Linked DNA regions of Homo sapiens: region 1 is linked to region 2. The links come from fine-mapping of genetic effects on gene expression. A gene starts in region 2. The other region holds a variant in brackets. All regions are shown on one strand. Distances are between the middles of the regions. Region 1 overlaps POMT2 (protein O-mannosyltransferase 2). Region 2 holds the start of POMT2 (protein O-mannosyltransferase 2).

Region 1 (8,400 bases), 26 kb before region 2:
CTGAGCTGGGATAGGCTAAGCCAGGTGGGATTTGCTGAGGAGTCACAGAGATACCTGTGGCACAGGACTGTCAGCAGAGATGACAGGCTCGGAAGGTGAGTGGAAGATGCCCTCTGTTCTCTTAGCTGCAGCAGAGGCACAGCCTGCAGGTAGCTAGCTGTCTGACCAAAGAAAGGAAGATCTGGCTCTAGCTCTTGCTCTGTCATAAAGCCCTGAGAGCCTGATAGGTGTGCTTCAGAGCGCCTTCACCCAGGCCAGTTAGAAGCAGATCAGCAGGCATCGAGTCACATCTCAGGAATTAGCCTAGACAAATTCCAGTCACAGGACTAGTAGCCCCTCAGATCAACTGACTGACTCAGGCCAGGGCTGAGCAGTGGGCAGGATTCTATCTTATCAAGACGACTTAAGCTGCACCACATGCTAGAGTGTGCAATGTTTGGTGTGCTCTATGTAAGAAATGAGAGCAGCAGCCAGGTGCCCTCAGCTGGGGCCACTCACCAGCCCCTAGTGGCATGCTCAAGTAACCTCTACTTAGATTAAATCTGGGCTCCGCTATCTGTCTTCAAAATGACAGCTCTAAGAGCAAGTTCTTACCTGTTTTGCTCAATGCTTATCCCCTATGCCAACAACAGTGCTTGGAACACAGTAGGTGCTTAATAAATAATAATTGAAAGGATAATTGAGATAAGTAAAGGTGTCAAAGATGCTCAGCAAAGCCCATCTCAGGATCATTCTTTTGCAGGCATGAGAAATCTTAAGGAGGGCTCAGAGGGAGTAACAGCACAAGAAGCATCAGTCTCTGACCACATTACCTGAGTTTGTGTTATGTTTCTTGATAATCCACAGGTTGTTGTAGTCCTTGTGCAAATAGGTGGTGACCTGGGTGGGGGGTGGGGGCGGAGGGAAGAGGAAGCAGGAGGGAGAATACCATCACTATCAGCACAGCTGGCCAAGGACAATCAACCTCAAACCAATGTTGCTTAAGCCAATTTCAGAATCCCCAGCCACCAACCTGAGGGGCCATGTTTCCCAATGGGGCTCATATGTAGCACTGGTGAGTGAGATTCTCTCCTTCCTTCTGCATTTAGAAGCTTTGTCCCACAAGAGCCTTTTTGTTTCTTTGTATCTTTCTGCATCTTGTCCTAAAAGTTCCATCCAGCCTTCTAGAGGGAGGAACCATGAGGCCTTATATAACTGACTCCAACACAAAAACAGAATGAGGATTTAAGTGCATTTTCAAAGTAATTAAGGCCGGGTGTGGTGGCTCATGCCTGTAATCCCAGCACTTTGGGAAGCCAGAGTGGGCGGATCACCTGAGGTCAGGAGTTTGAGATCAGCCTGGCCAACACGGTGAAACCCCGTCTTTACTAAAAATACAAAAATTAGCCGGGCATGGTACGCGCCTGTAATCCCAACTACTCAGGAGGCTAAGGCAGGAGAATCGCTTGAACCTAGGAGGCAGAGGTTGCAGTGAGCTGAGATCGCGCCACTGCACTACAGCCTGGGCAACAGAGCAAGACTCTATCTTGGGAAAAAAAAAAGTAATTAAGATCATGCCTCAAACTTTCTAAATGAAAAATTCATGCTATTATATTTTCTATAATGTGGCCAAATGAAACGAAAAAGCTCCACAGATATCCTGTCCTAGAATTTAACTCACGTTTTATACAAAAAATCTGGAAACAGTATGACTGTCTAGTAATAGAAAAATAGTTAACATGATAGTATGTCCTGGGATAGAATATTATACAGCCATAAAAAATGTTTCAGAGCATTTTTTTAGCAACATGGGAAAAGGCTCATGAAATGCTGATGCTGAAAATGGCTACCATTTATTACCAGGCACTGTTCTAAGCATTGGGCAAGTCTTATCTCATTTAACCATTATTACAGCTCTATGCCATAGGTACTATGGTTATCCCCACATTACTTACAAGGAAACTGAAGTTAAGTAATTTGCTCAAGGTCACACAGCTTATGCGTTGGGGAGACAGAATTCAAACCAGGGCCGCAAAATAAATGCTCCCAGGATAGAGACTATATACGTCCAATTATGCCAATTATGTAGACAAGTAGAGAACTCTCACAAATGAGTTTTTATAACCCCAATTGGATAAAATATGACCAATTTATAGTCATATGCCACATAAAGACATTTTGGTCAACAACAAACTGCATATATAATGGTTGCCCCATAAGATTATAATACCATATTTTTACTATACCATTTCCATGTTTAGATATGTTTAAGTTAATACAAATACTTACCATTGTGTTCCACTGTGTTCCAACTGCCTGCAGTATTCAGTACAGTAACATGCTATACAGGTTTGTAGTCTAGGAGCAATCAGCTATACCATGTAGCTTAGGTGTGTGGTAGGCTGGACCACCTAGGTTTGTGTAAGTACATACTATGATGTTCACCCAACGATCAAATCACCTAATGACCTGTTTCTCAGAAGGTATCCCCCCGATGCATGACTGTACTTACAAAGAGATTTAGAATTAGCATTTAGGGGAAAAATTATTTTGCTTGCATTATGGCTGCTTCTTTTGAGTGGTATTTGCTTTGTTCCTCAGGAAAAAAAAATTAGGGATAATGTTATTAAGAATATACAAGAAGCTAAAAAGTTTTGGTGCTCATAAAGAAATTAAAATGAAGTCTACATTCCTGAGAAAAAGCTCGATATCGTCCATCCAGCCTGGATTTGCTCAAGGAAGTTAAGGTTCTATGATGCTCGTGTGTGTACTCTGTGTAGATGTGTGGTAGGAGAGCAGTCTTTGTGTGTCTGTTTTACAAGAGCAATTATGATTAAAATTCCTACAAGAAAAATTATTTATTTATCATGAGTACAGTCCATGGCCCCTTTTCCCACTGAAATGTTTGTTTTGACAATGGAGATTTTTATACCATGAGATTTCCTAAGAACACAAGTATCCAATTATAGCAGAATGTTGTACATTAAAACATTCAGATAAACACTTAATCTTCTGGGATTACATGTAGCTTTTGTTTTCTTTTTTATACTTTTCTACATTTTCCAATTTTATAAATGCTATGCTTTAAAAACATTCTAAAATAGAGACCTAGACATGTTAACAAGACATTAAACTGCATGGCAGGAAGGGCCACTGGAGATTATTTAGTCCAATCCCCTCAATTTACAGATGAGGAAACAGGATGAAAGGCTAAAAGATCTGGTCAATGACAAAGCCAGACACTTTCGTCCCTTGGCGCAATGCACTTTCCCTATACCACCATCACGTTTCACACCTCCACACATGGGCTCTACGTACATAACACTAGCTTAACAGAGCCTTTCAGAGTTTGGCCTTTCTCTCCCTTTGCACAGTGTAGATGTTCTGGTCACCAGGTCTGTAACTGTAGTGTCTTCTACATGACACCTGCAGCAATTTATCAACACATGAGAACACAGAACATCTAGTTTTCTCTGCCCTGGGTGTACATGACTTAGAATAATTTGGACAGCTTAAAACCAAACCAAAAATGCATAATGCATGGGCCTCATCCTAGATCAATTAAATCATAATCTCTGCAGTGGAGTCCAGGCATCAGAATTTTTAAAAATCTCTCCGTTGATTCTAAGTGCAGCCAGGGCTGAAAACCACTGGGCCAGACATGAATGGAGAATTAAGGATAAGAAACTGATACTAAAATCCAATACCCTGTAATATGGTTTGGCTTTATGTCCCCACCCAATTCTCATCTTGTGGCTCCTCTAATTCCCACGTGTTGTGGGAGGGACCCGGTGGGAGATGATTGAGTCACGAGTGAATGGGTCTCACAAGATCTGATGGTTTTATTTTTTTATTTTTTGAGATGGAGTCTCACTCTTTTGCCTGGGCTGGAGTACAGTGGCGCAATCTCAGTTCACTGCAACCTCCACCTCCCCGGTTCAAGTGATTCTCCTGCCTCAGTCTCCTGAGTGGCTGGGATTACTGGCACGTGCCATCAAGCCCGAGTAATTTTTTTGTATTTTTAGTAGAGATGGGGTTTCACCATGTTGGCCAGGCTGGTCTCAAACTCCTGACCTAAAGTGATCCGCCCACCTCGGCATAAGCCACCGCACCTGGCCAGAGATCTGATGGTTTTTAAAACCATTTTTAAAATGGGATTTTCTCTGCACAAGCTCTCTCTTTGCCTGCCGCCATCCACATAAAATGTGACTTGCTCCTCCTTGCCTTCCACCGGGGTTGTGAGGCCTCCCCAGCCATGTGGAACTTTAAGTCCAATTAAATCTCTTTCTTTTGTAAATTGCCCAGTCTCAGGTATGTCTTTATCAGCAGCATGAAATTGCACTAATACATACTGAGTCACTTTCTAGCAACTAAAAGGGAAATAAAAATAAAGCATTTGGAGAGAGACAACTTTTTGCAAAGAACAAATCTTTGCAAAGTAAAGATTCCATGCTTTTTGCCTCTGTTCACTGTCCTTTGTCATAATTATTGCCTCCAAACTGGTTCCTTGTGAGCTATCACATTTCCACTAAAGTTACCTTTCTAAACTAGAGATCTAATCATAATCATAATAATTTTGATTGCCTCCCTAATGTCTATGGAGCAAAGTCAAATCTACTATAACACAGGCCTCTCCCCAATATGGCCCCACCAACCTCTTCAGCATCCTGCTTCTCCCTCTCAGGCACCATCCACTGCAGCCACACAAACACTCCTTAACATGGACACAGCATCGTTCACTCATTCAGATGATACTCACATGGCTAATCTTTCATAAGCACTTCACATTGTTATCTCATTTAATCCTCACAACTGCCCTTTGATGGAGAGAGGTACTACTCATTTTCCCCAACTTAAAGAGGAGGATACAGGCTGGGCGCGGTGGCTCATGCCTGTAATCCCAGCACTTTGGGAGGCCGAGGCAGGTGGATCATGAGGTCAGGAGATCGAGACTATCCTGGCTAACACGGTGAAACCCTGTCTCTACTAAAAATACGAAAAATTAGCCAGGCGTGGTGGCGGGTGCCTGTAGTCCCAGCTACTCGGGAGGCTGAGGCAGGAGAATGGCGTGAACCCGGGAGGCGGAGTTTGCAGTAAG[C/T]TGAGATCACGCCACTGCACTCCAGCCTGGGTGACAGAGCAAGACTCCATCTCAAAAAAAAAAAAAAAAAAAAGAAGAGGATACTGAAGCACAAGAAGATGAACTTGTCCAAAGTGACACTCTATATGAAAGCAGGCTTCACACCCCGATCATCTAGTCTGGTTCCCAGGTCTGTGTTCATAAATACCACACTTTATTCATCACCCATCCCATAGCAGGCACCGTGCTAGGCAATTGAGCCTTCCAGGAGCTAGCAATCAAGTACCAAAGAGACGGCGGGAAGTAAGCATGCACAGTTCAATATGAGAAGGTTTACCACGTAGGCATGTGGAAGGTGCCACCAAGCCTCTCATCAGAGGGGCACCCCACCCAGCACCATGGAGAGGTGGGACATGGTTGTCACTAAAGAACACCTATGCTGATGCCTAGAGAAGCTGGGGTTAGCCAGAGAAAACAGAAGGGTGCAGGGCTAGGAAGAATGTTTCAAGCAGGGCGAACAGGATGAGCAAAGGATAGGAGGCAAGAGAGTGAACTGTCATGGCGAACAGCATTGCTGCCGTACAAGTGCACAAAAGGCTCACTGACCTGCTGCTGACGGGCACCAATGCCCTCGGGGTAGAGGTGCCTGTGGGAGTGCAGATAGCCGATGGCCATCCGGAGGTTCTTCACAGTGATCACAGAGCCGTAGGCCAGGTCTGGGAGGAAGGGAGACAGCAGAGGGGTGAGCTGGCACAGTGCCAGAGGCTGTCCGTGCCTGCGAGGAGCCTCGGAAGCCACAGGGCTCACTAACCCTCTGCGAGACTCCCCTGGGCCCTGGACTGAAGCCCAGCTACCTTCTCACTCCCATGGAGCCGACTCAAGACAGAGTTCACCACAGGGCCCACTTACTCCCCCGCCTCCTGAGGGCTTCAGAAGAAGCTTGTGTTAACACTGTCATTATCAAAGCACTACGTGTAACAGCAAAAGACGAAAAACAACTTGTCCTTCTCAAGGTCTCCACATGGATTCAATGGAATAAAGAAGGAAGTATCTTCTGTCTTCGCCTGGAATGTTCTCCAAGATACAGCATTTTGACAAACCATTTTTTTCACTCTATATCCTTTCGTGCCTTTTGAATCTAGTACCATATGAAATAACTGTTCAATGGTGTTTTGTTTTACTCTGAATTAAAAAACAAAAAACACAGAAAACCACTTCTCAAGAGCATCCCCTGCTCCTATAGGCCCTGAGTTATTGAGAAACCTTTTTTCCTTAATACTGTCCTTCTTCCAATCCGCTGGAATGACCTGCTCCTGTTTTTCTTTGTTCATTCAGTGGACCAGAAGAATTACACACTGGATCCAAAGGTGGAGGAGGCCTGCCTGTGGCCCTGGAAGAGCCCTGTCTACAAGGAAGATGGCTTCACACACTGACAAGTATAGGACAGTGGGCAAGTGCCCCACAAAGGCGTGACAATGTGTGACATGGTGGGAATGGTGGGAACTCGGAACAGGCCAAATTCTCTCCCAAGGATTAAAGAGAGGACGACTTGATCGAAGAGGTGACAGCTGAACTAGGCCTTTAAATAATGAGCAGGAATTTGCTAAACTCCACAGCTGTGTTCTTCTGAGTTCTCAGGCAGGCCAACCTCGGCAGCCCTGCACATGGCTGACCACCTTTATTTCTTGAAATGCTCTCTGTTCCCACTTCTCGACCGCACACTCTCTCAAGGGCTGCTCCTCCGCAGTCTCCTCTCCTAATTCCTCCTCCTCTTGCATTCCCCAGTGATCTGACCTCAGCTCTATTCTTTTCCTCTTTCTACAGTTTCCTTACAAATCACAGCTACTGCCACAGCATCAATTACCGTTTTACTTGTCTGATTCCTCCTTTGAAAGCATCAGCCCCAAATCCCACTGGCCCCATGGCAACAATTTCCCCAAGCAGCTCACTATCAACCCCTCTCGCGTGGAATTCAGTATCTGCCCTTCCAACCCAACTTCTTCTCCTGCTTCCCTATTTCTCATTCTTCCCAGTCTGGGAGAGTCCGCTGTATTTTAGGCACTGTGCAAAGTCCTGGAAAGACTAAAATGAGTAAGATGCAGTCTCTGCCTCCAGGAAGCAATCACCTGCACTCAAGTCCTTAGTGACATCTTTCTTCCTCTCTTGCTGTGTCCAGATCTCCCTTGTATATGCCCATTTGCCTTACCCTGTGGCTGCCCCACCATACCCAGCTCAGGTTCCTGCAATAGCTTCCCAGAGGGTTTCTCTTGCCTACAATCCTGTCCCCTCCCCAGCCAGCCTCGACTCTCCCACCCATGTCATCTCCCTATAGCACAGCCTTCCTGGCCTCCTGGCTGCTCAAAGACCTCCACTAGGTCTCCACGGCCTGTTTTAGGAAGTCAAATACCTCATCCAGACACCTCAAACCCTCATAGTCTGGGCCCAACCTAACTTTTCACATTTATCTTCCAGTAGTTTTCTGCATATACCTGTGCCTCAAGTTTTACTCTGTCCTCAGCTTTGATCATGTCATCCCTCCTGCCTGAGATGCCCTCTCCTCTGTTGAAAGCCACACATTCTTCCAGGGCCTGACTCCAAGGCAACCCACATCACGAACCTCTGATGCCCTTAACCGCCCAGCAGCCATGCTCCTTCACGCCTGTCAATCCCCAGAGCTGTGCTCCCTCTTTACGTACTTAACGCTTCCAGCCACACCGTGTGGAGCTCCTCTACACCAGGCTCCATCTCTGGAGGGTGAGCACGCGCTCCACTACCATCTGTCATAGATGAACGAATGCAACACTCAGAAAGCGGTGCGGGAAACCAAAAACTGGCTCTGAAGGGCCTGGTGCTGTCACCATATTCTCTCTGAGTGACCTTCCCACAGAGCTGGCTTGGAGAGCCACCAAGGAGAAGTCATTCTTTAGGGTCAGAGAGCTTGCTGCTCAGGATGTCTTCCTCTCCTCTGTCCTGATTCACTCTCGAGTATTTTCACCAGATCTATCTGGGTCTTTCTCCCACCGTGCCATCACAGGCTAAAATAACCCAAAGCCATCATATTTGTCTTTTCCAATTCAACTCCCAGGACACCCCTCTGCCTTCTACCTTTGTAATGGCCCAGAGACACTCACGTTCAGGGATGGAAGCATTGTGCAGGTTGTTCCCTGAAAGCCGGGCCTGGAAGGCAGAACTGAAGAAACCGTCACCAGGGCCACTGTGGGGAGAGGAAGAGCAGAAGAGAGTCAAGTTAAAGGAGTGAAAGTGTGATTTCCCAGGAGCGCTGGGAAGAGCTCTGCTCAGATAGTTTAAGGAAAGTAGAATCAGATCATGGGACAGAGGTGGGT
Region 2 (8,247 bases):
AAGCCGAGCTGCTGTTCAGTAGGGCCCTTGATTCACAGGGGTTCCTGTAAATGCTTAGGCCTGGCTCACCAATGATTAGGCTGAGTTAAAAGCTGATGTTGCCCACCAAGCAGCAGCAGGCACTTAGCCCCAATGATAACTCTGGATGGCTGATGGCAGTAAGGATTGAAGCATTTGGTATGCCACTTGGAAGACTAAATACTGAGAGATGAAAGCTGAGAAGTGTGGAAACACATCATGGCTGCCTGCCAATAGGACAGACTGGATCACTCACGTAGGTGCCCACACTAAGGGCAGGTACTCTCGTAAGACTGACTGGAATCAAACTGCTGATCCAGCCTGCACCACCAAGACTGCTGCCATAGCCACCTGGATTCATGCAACCGGTGTGGAAACATCTACCATCATGGGCTAGGCACAACGTAAGGGACTACATGTTTCTGAGGCAGAAGCCACCACTGCGTGCCAGACTTGTGACTCCTGCCAAAAGTTGGCCTGCTTGTCTTGCAGTAAAGGAAGCCACATTGCAAGGGGCACTGACCACACCTGCTCCTGGGAGATTGACATTAGGACTTTGTTCCCTTCTCTAGGCTCTCATCAGTACCTTGCTACTGCTGATACTTTTTCAGTTTACAGTGCTGATGTTGCTTTTCCAGTCCAATTATCTGACTCTGTGTATACCACTGTGGCCCTTGAAACTAAACTGCCAGGTTTTCTGCTTTCCAAACCATCTACAGTCTGACACTGGCATATCTTTTTGTCGCAATGGCCACCCAACAGTGTCAACAGTCAATAGCCAAGGTATTCGATGGACCTCCCACACTCCCTACCATCCACAGGCATGACATTGTCAAGTACTGAACAGTTCCCTCAAAGATCAACTCAAAAAGATTTTTGATTCTATGTTTTTAACCTCCTCCTGGTCTGCAAACCTTACTGAAGCAGTTTGGTCACCTAAGGCAGCCATTCTCAGAAATGGGTCATCTCCTTTTGCCTACCAACTGGGTAATGATCAGGAAAAAGGGGTGGAGGGTTATATAAACCTATTTTGAAAATGTGAGATTCTCCCCTGACCATTTCTGGCCATGATTCATCTTTCTTCCCCCTTACAGAAAGCCCAGATCAGCTGGGAGGAGGAGGCTATCTATGTAATTCAGACTTAATTCTAGTTCAGTCACTAGATTGTCTTGTTGGAATGGCCTGGTGCCAGAACATAAAGTTAATGATCATTTGGTTGGGTATAGTGCTTTTAAAGTCCCCCTACAGTGGCCCACATGTGTCAAGGTAGAAGACATAATGGGCCTCTGTCAATTTTCTAACAATTGGATATTAGAAGGCCTGCGTATTGGTAGGGGATAAATGGAGAAAAGGTGAAGTTATAGTTACTAGGGTAGGACACACTCATTATGTAGCAATGGAAGGAAAGAAACAATCCTGGCATCTGGGGAAGGAACACCACAGGACCCTGGAGATGTAAAGAGAAGGGAAACAATGTTCTCTTTGTCCCTATCCAGCACCAAAGCCTGGCAAACATTCACATGGTCCATCTAGGTCAAGCAGCAACTGTGGCTGGCAATCTGACCTGTGGCTGAGTTTGTCATCTCACTATGAAAACATAAAAACTTTATCTAGCAGGTCAGTATAAAAAAGAAAATAAAAAAAGAAAACAAAAACTCACATGGACACGGCCAGTCTTGAACTATTCCCACGTGCCTGATGACATCAACACCAACTCCCAAACGCAGACCTCCCTCATAGGTGTGCAAACACACAGATCAGCACCACCTTCTATCAATGCGGCTGATACAAATCACATGCTTCTCCTGAGATCCTAAGGGCCTTACTTAGGTTATGCCTTGTCTAGTGATTGAGGCTGCAACTGTTCAGTGACACTGCCCATGTGGTTTAAACCACTGTAATGGTAATCAAATTTGATGGTGATCCAAATAAAAATCTAACAAAAATCCTGGAGTGGCCTGCACTCCTCCAAGTAATATGTTAGTGTAAGGAAGAATGGGTCACAAAATATCTTTCCATTAATCATGGTAGTTAATTTTTTTTTTTTTTTTTTGAGACAGAGTCTGGCTTTGTCGCCTAGGCTGGAATGCAATGGTGCGATCTTAGCTCACTGCAACCTCTGCTTCCCAGGTTCAAGTGATTCTCCCACCTCAGCCTCCCGAGTAGCTGGGATTACAGGCACCCGCCATCATGCCCGGCTAAGTCTTGTATTTTCAGTTGAGACGGAGTTTCACCATGTTGGCCAGGTTGGTCTCGAACTCCTGACCTCAGGTGATCTGCCCGCCTCGGCCTCCCAAACTGCCGGGATTACAGGTGTGAGCCACTGCGCCCAGCCTGGTAATTACTTTCTTAAAAAAATTTTTACAAGGGTAGTGGGCTATTGTAATTACTGGTAATGACACCAAAGATCAGAGATCAATCTGAACCCCTGTGCACAGGTCACAGTGGTTAATAGACTGGTCTTAGACTGCAGCCCAGATGTCTGAAATAAGATTCCTCGGTGCCCCCAGGACTTATTCACAAGTGGCTGAATCCAGGACCCTGGAGGGCATGGTTGAGGTAAATACTGTAAGCTGGCCTTATTCTGCTGCTTAGAGTCCCATTGACAACAACCTTAATTAAATGCTGTAAGGGACAAACTGAAAAGATGTGAGTAGCCAGGGGAGTTGTATATTCATGTGAAAATCTGCTAGAAGCCAAGACCATAGAATCGAGGAGTGAGAGAGGCTGTCAGATTGCTCGTGCCTCTACACATCATTCTGGGTATACCAAGAATGCAAGGCCCTGACTGCATCTCACCTGGGCCATTTCTCATGGTTGTGTTTGCAGCAAGCAACTTTGAGAGAAGAGGCAGTGTCTCCCTCCAGGACAAAGAGGAGGTCTGCGTACTGCCTTCTATAAAACAGCAGATTTTCCAAGCTTGTCGTTCCTTCACTTGGATGCAACCCACTGCCTGTGCAGTCATCCATTTAAACCCATAGCGTCACCCTGTGGGACTTGGATGGCAAGGGAAACTGCTTCTAACATGCATCCTATTTCCTGTAATAAAGTCCTTTGTCTCTAACCCAGGAGTCTCATCTTCTGCCAGCAGTCACGACACAATAACAAGCTAATTTATTAATTTCTAAATAAAGCAACCCTGACAGTCTGTTTTCTTGCCTGCTTTTTGCTTAAAGAATTCCATTTCTGACACCCAGTATCTGGATAGTACAAGCTAAAACCTTTAAGAAAATAAATCTCTTCTCACAAGAAGAGTTCTGCCTCATAAAATCCTTTGGTCACCATACCTGAACACCCAAACTGTCCTTGCCCTATAGGATAAAGGTACACAGTTAGGTATTTTCTCCTCTGTTGATGCCTGAAAATCCTGCAGACATAGGAACTCAGGCCTTAGAAAATTCTGTACCCAAAAATTTGCAATTCTCTTTGGAAAGTTGAAAGCACCTTTAAAAGCCACAATTTGCAAGCCAGGTGATGCACTGTAGCATAACCTGGAAGACATGAGGGCTGCTTCCTCAGATACTAAGAATCCCACTGCCCCACCACCAGAGCAAAACGATCCCCCTCCCAGAGAATGCACCTCGCCAGAGGCCAACCCACCCGATACCTCAAGTTCCCCTCCACCGTGGCCCTCCTCCTATAGATCCCGCCCCCTCCGTACCCTCGGGCCAATCAGAGGGCGGCGTCCCGTCGCGGTTGCCATGGTGCCCGCCGAGTCCCTCCCATCACTCACCAGATGTGCGGCGGCTCGTCCAAGCGGTGGAAGCGGGTGGCGAAGGACAGCAGCGTCACCAAGGCCAGCAGGGCCCACCAGCCGACCGCCTCGAAGCGCCGTGAGCCCCAAGCAGGCCGTTTGGGGCTTCGCGCCACAGCCTCAGCGGCCACGTCCCGGCCTGCGGCCCTAGCAGCCTGGGGGCCACAGCGGCCCCTCCGGGGACGCAGCTCGGACTCTGCCAGGCCTCCGCCCGTGGCCGGCGGCATCTTCCCCCTCCTCTGGGTCGCCCTCCGGCCCGGAGGCACACTTTGTCTGACCAGCCGCCCCGCCAAGGAGTCACAAGAGGGCAGCTCGGGGTACCCCGGGAAATGCAACGCCCTTCACTGCAGCGGAGCGCGGGGCCCCGGGCTCGGGGCGGGGCGGGCAGCGTGGTCGCGGCCCGGGCCGCTAGGAGGCGGCAGGAGGCGCAGAGCATGTCGGGACCGGGAGGGCCGGCCGGCCCGGGGCGGGGGGGACTGGGCAGGAGGGGTCGGGCTCAGGGAACTGCAACTCCCAGCAGCCCCCAGGTACGGGGCGTGGCGGGAGAGCTGGGCGAGCCAGAGGCGACCGGAAGGATCTTTCTAGTCCAGCCCCTCGCTTTACCCGGACGAAAGACACGGGCCTGATTCGTCGAGTCTCACTGAGCCTTAGTCGTCGGCAGGTCCCAGGCGCGAAGTTTCTCGGCCTGGAGGAGGGGGTCGCGCGAAGTGCCAGATGCAGGCGGGGAAGGTCTGTGACGCGCACCCGGGTGGAGGGAAGCTGGTTAGACACCTGGAGACCCTGGGGGGCGGGGTCAGAAGTGAGCTGCACCGCCCGCCCAGGCCGACAACGACTCCCGGCATGCAGTGCTTTGCGCCGGGCACGCTCTGCGCCTGCGTGCTGCGCGCTGCCCGCTGGGGCTCGAAGTTCCGGGAGGGTTGGGCCAGAGGAGGCGGTCCTGGTAGGGAGTGCGTAGCAGGGTGGAGTCGCTGTCCGGTCGCGCTTCACTTCTGCTCCGCCCTCCCTGCTCCCCATAACAGACCCCTCCCTCCACTAAGGCTTCCAAACGTCGCCCCAAGCCTCCCAATTTCTCGCAGCCCTTCATGCTCTTCTCTTGGCCCTAGCAGGAGGTGACCTTCCAGTAATGTTTGTATTTTAAGAGTCCCCGGGCCGGGCGCGGTGGCTCACGCCTGTAATCCCAGCACTTTGGGAGGCCGAGGCGGGCGGATCACAAGGTCAGGAGATAGAGACCATCCTGGCTAACACGATGAAACCCTGTCTCTATTAAAATACAAAAAAATTAGCCAGGCGTGGTAGCGGGCGCCTGTAGTCCCAGCTACTCGGGAGGCTGAGGCAGGAGAATAGCGTGAACCCAGGAGGCGGAGCTTGCAGTGAGCCGAGATCGCGCCACTGCACTCCAGCCTGGGCGAAAGAGCGGGACTCCGGCTCAAAAAAAAAAAAAAAAGGCCCCGAGCGAGGAGAGGCAGTCATGACAATCACCTGGGGAGCTTCACGGCTTTCACATGTTCTTCCCGGGGCCTGCTCCAGAGCCACTCTGTTCATCTCTGGTGGAACGGGCTCGAGAATCTGCATGTTTTTATAAGCGGTCTAGATGGTTCTTAACGTGCCATGAAGTTTGAGAACCACTTTTGTGGCACTAAGGAAGGTGGCACGTTAGATGGGACTTTGCGTCACGTTAATAATGTATAGTCCTCCCTCTTCCAAATGGGATTTTAGGAGTCTTTTTCTCAAATCATGTGTAAGACATGGTTTAAAAATAAAATCTGCTAAAGTAATCAGAATGCATATTTGAATTGGAAACACAGGTCTTCTAGGAGTGCTGATGAGATGGATACTTGGGCTTAAAGTTTAGTTCTACAAGTGCAGAAAGGAACGGGGCATGGTTTACATAGTTATCACTGGTAAGAGAAGGCAGAAATTGCCTAAGAGATTTCAGGTTTCCTGCTTGTGGGTCGTGACGGAGGGCAGCAGCATTTACCATGCTTCTGGTCACTCGTAGTACAGATCCAAAGGTGTAATCCAAAGGCATTTAGCCATTAGGTAAGGCATTTCTTCAGGGATTCTAAGCTAATTAATGTCTGCCACACTCTAGTGGTCACCAGCAGTCCCTGTCCCTTGGCACCAGGAGTCCCTGTAGCCTGGCTAGGTAAGGAAAGGGAGTTGCATCTCCAAATAAGGAAGATCCAGTTGTGGCCACCCAATTCCTCCTCTTCGAAAGACACTTTCTGCCCATCACCTGCTTTCTGTGCCAGGACCATCTTTACTTTCTCCACAAAAGGTACCTTCAGGACAGGCTGGGACTGCTGGGCTTGGGAACCATCTTGGAAGGGCCTAGGTTCCCACTTACACCCTTGCCATCTAGCAGACTGAGTTGGTAGTACAGGGATGGCAATAGCAAGTTCAGAGAGCAGCTTAATATGCTAGGGGTGGCAGAGGGGAGAGGGAGCTTTGGTGAAATGTCTATAGTCAGAGGGGTAGTAAACAGGGCATCTGAGAAGTTCTTTCAAGTTCTCCCCTATCCATAGGGATACACATGTTTTGGTGGGAAGATTCATGAGTGCTAATCACTGGCGAGTCTTTCCTGGGTTCCACTTTGAAATGCTGGCTCCCGAAGAAGTACCAGAGAAATTAACTTTGAGCCCCTTAAACCTTGGAGTAGAGATCGCACACCCAGCTGCCCCCAAGGGCCCAAAGGTAACAAAAATGAGAAAAGTGGGCCAGATATGGGCCATGGCAGACCTGAGAGCGCATACGCTGGTTGATGGGGGCCATTAGTCTGTTCCCATCAATTGCTGCTATTTAGGAACCCAAATCTGTCTCCAGATTTTTTTAAAGAAAAAAAACAAACAGGTGTTGTATATAAAATATCATGATTTTTATTTTTATTTTATTTTATTATTTATTTATTTTGAGATGGAGTCTTGCTCTGTCCCCCAGGCTGGAGGGCAGTGACACGATCTTGGCTCACTGTATCCTCCGCCTCCTGGGTTCAAGCAATTCTCATACCTCAGCCTCCCAAGTAGGTGTGATTACAGATGCACACCACCACACCTGGCTAATTTTTGTTTAGCCATGTTGTTTCGCCATGTTGGCCAGGCTGGTCTCGAACTCCTGACCTCAGGTGATCTGCTGGCCTCAGCCTCCCAAAGTGCTGGGATTACAGGCATGACCCACCATACTAGAATGAAATGTCCTGATTTTTAAACATTGGCAACTACTTGAAACATTTTAAACTACTGTGTTGAGCAAACAGAAATTCTGAGGGCCAGATAGGGCCCCAGTGAGCTGCCAGCTTTTGACCTCACCTTTGGGGTGAGTGAGCATATCTGCCAGCTGTTTTTATGGGGACAGCCGAGAGCCCGGAGGACTGCTGGGAGGTGGGGTTGAAGGAGATATGTACCAAAGCGTCAAAAAATTAGAATTCCTTGTCTTGCTGCATTGCTAGAGGATGCCCTGCCATCATTTTAGGGCAACCTTTGTTTTACAAATGAGGGAGCCGAAGATTTAAAAAGGCAGAGGTTTGTCCAAGGTCATGCAGAGCTGGTTCCTGCACCAGGTCCAGACTCCAGATGCCAGCTCCCAGCCCGCTCCACCACTCAAAATACTGCATCAAAACCAGGCCACGCTCTGTTGGGGGGACACCAAACCTGGCCCCAGCAGGAGCGTAAGAAACTTCCTGCGAGTTGGAAAAAAATGCCTTTTTTTTTTTTTTTTTTTTGAGACGCAGTCTCGCTCTGGAGTGCAGTGGTGCGATCTCGGCCCACTGTGACCTCCACCTCTCAGGTTCAAGCTATTCTCTTACCTCAACCTCCTGAGTAGCTGAGATTACAGGCACCCACTACCACACCTGGCTGATTTTTTTTTGTATTTTCAGTAGAGACAGGGTTTCACCATGTTGGCCAGGCTGGTCTCAAACTCCTCACCTCAAATGATCCACCCACCTTGGCTCCCGAAGTGCTGGGATTACAGGCGTGAGCCACTGTGCCTGGCCAGAAATGCCCTTTCTGACCAGAGTCAAAGTTCCCCCAATGCCTGGGTAGCCCAGCTTCCCCATTGGCTCCTGAAATCCACCCCTTTAGGTTTCCTTTCCCTGCTCAGAAGCTGTGCCAGAGGGGACATTTCCTGGGAGGCTGAGGGTCACCACGATACCATGACAGAGTCTGGCAAGGTATGGAAGGCACTCTCAGGCTAGCTGCCCCTTTGGGGGCCTCTTGGACCTCAGGAGCTCAAACCAGCATAATTTTGGAGCCAAGGGACCTCATGAGCCTCTCAGAGAGCTTGGAGTCTGCCCTGATTTGCACAGATGCAGGCCTGAGAGAGGAGGCCTGGCAGGACAGGAAGAAATGGTTGACTCCTCCCAAGCTGGAGCCCACCCAGCATGGGTTAACACGCGCCTTCATCCTCTCTCTCCTCAGCCCATCCTCTATTCCTATTTCCGAAGCTCCTGCTCATGGAGAGTTCGAATTGGTAAGAGA

The links.
Region 1: its variant is fine-mapped to the expression of POMT2 in lung (GTEx, PIP above 0.99).

Annotation. Positions count from the first base shown.
Region 1 is chr14:77,290,502-77,298,901 of GRCh38, forward strand. It overlaps POMT2 (protein O-mannosyltransferase 2), which reads right to left. Exons shown (of 21, transcript NM_013382.7): 8 at 8,188-8,270; 9 at 5,663-5,772; 10 at 813-879. Among named protein-coding and RNA genes, the nearest start is that of NGB, 23 kb to the left of the region's middle. The variant C/T (reference allele first, on the strand shown) is at 5,078.
Region 2 is chr14:77,316,683-77,324,929 of GRCh38, forward strand. It overlaps POMT2 (protein O-mannosyltransferase 2), which reads right to left and starts at 4,201. Exons shown (of 21, transcript NM_013382.7): 1 at 3,752-4,201. The coding sequence starts at 3,999. GSTZ1 (glutathione S-transferase zeta 1) reads left to right here and starts at 4,354. Exons shown (of 9, transcript NM_145870.3): 1 at 4,354-4,501; 2 at 8,188-8,239. The coding sequence starts at 4,487. RefSeq lists silencers at 3,688-3,737, 3,968-4,347 and enhancers at 4,428-4,697, 4,575-5,436, 4,968-5,017.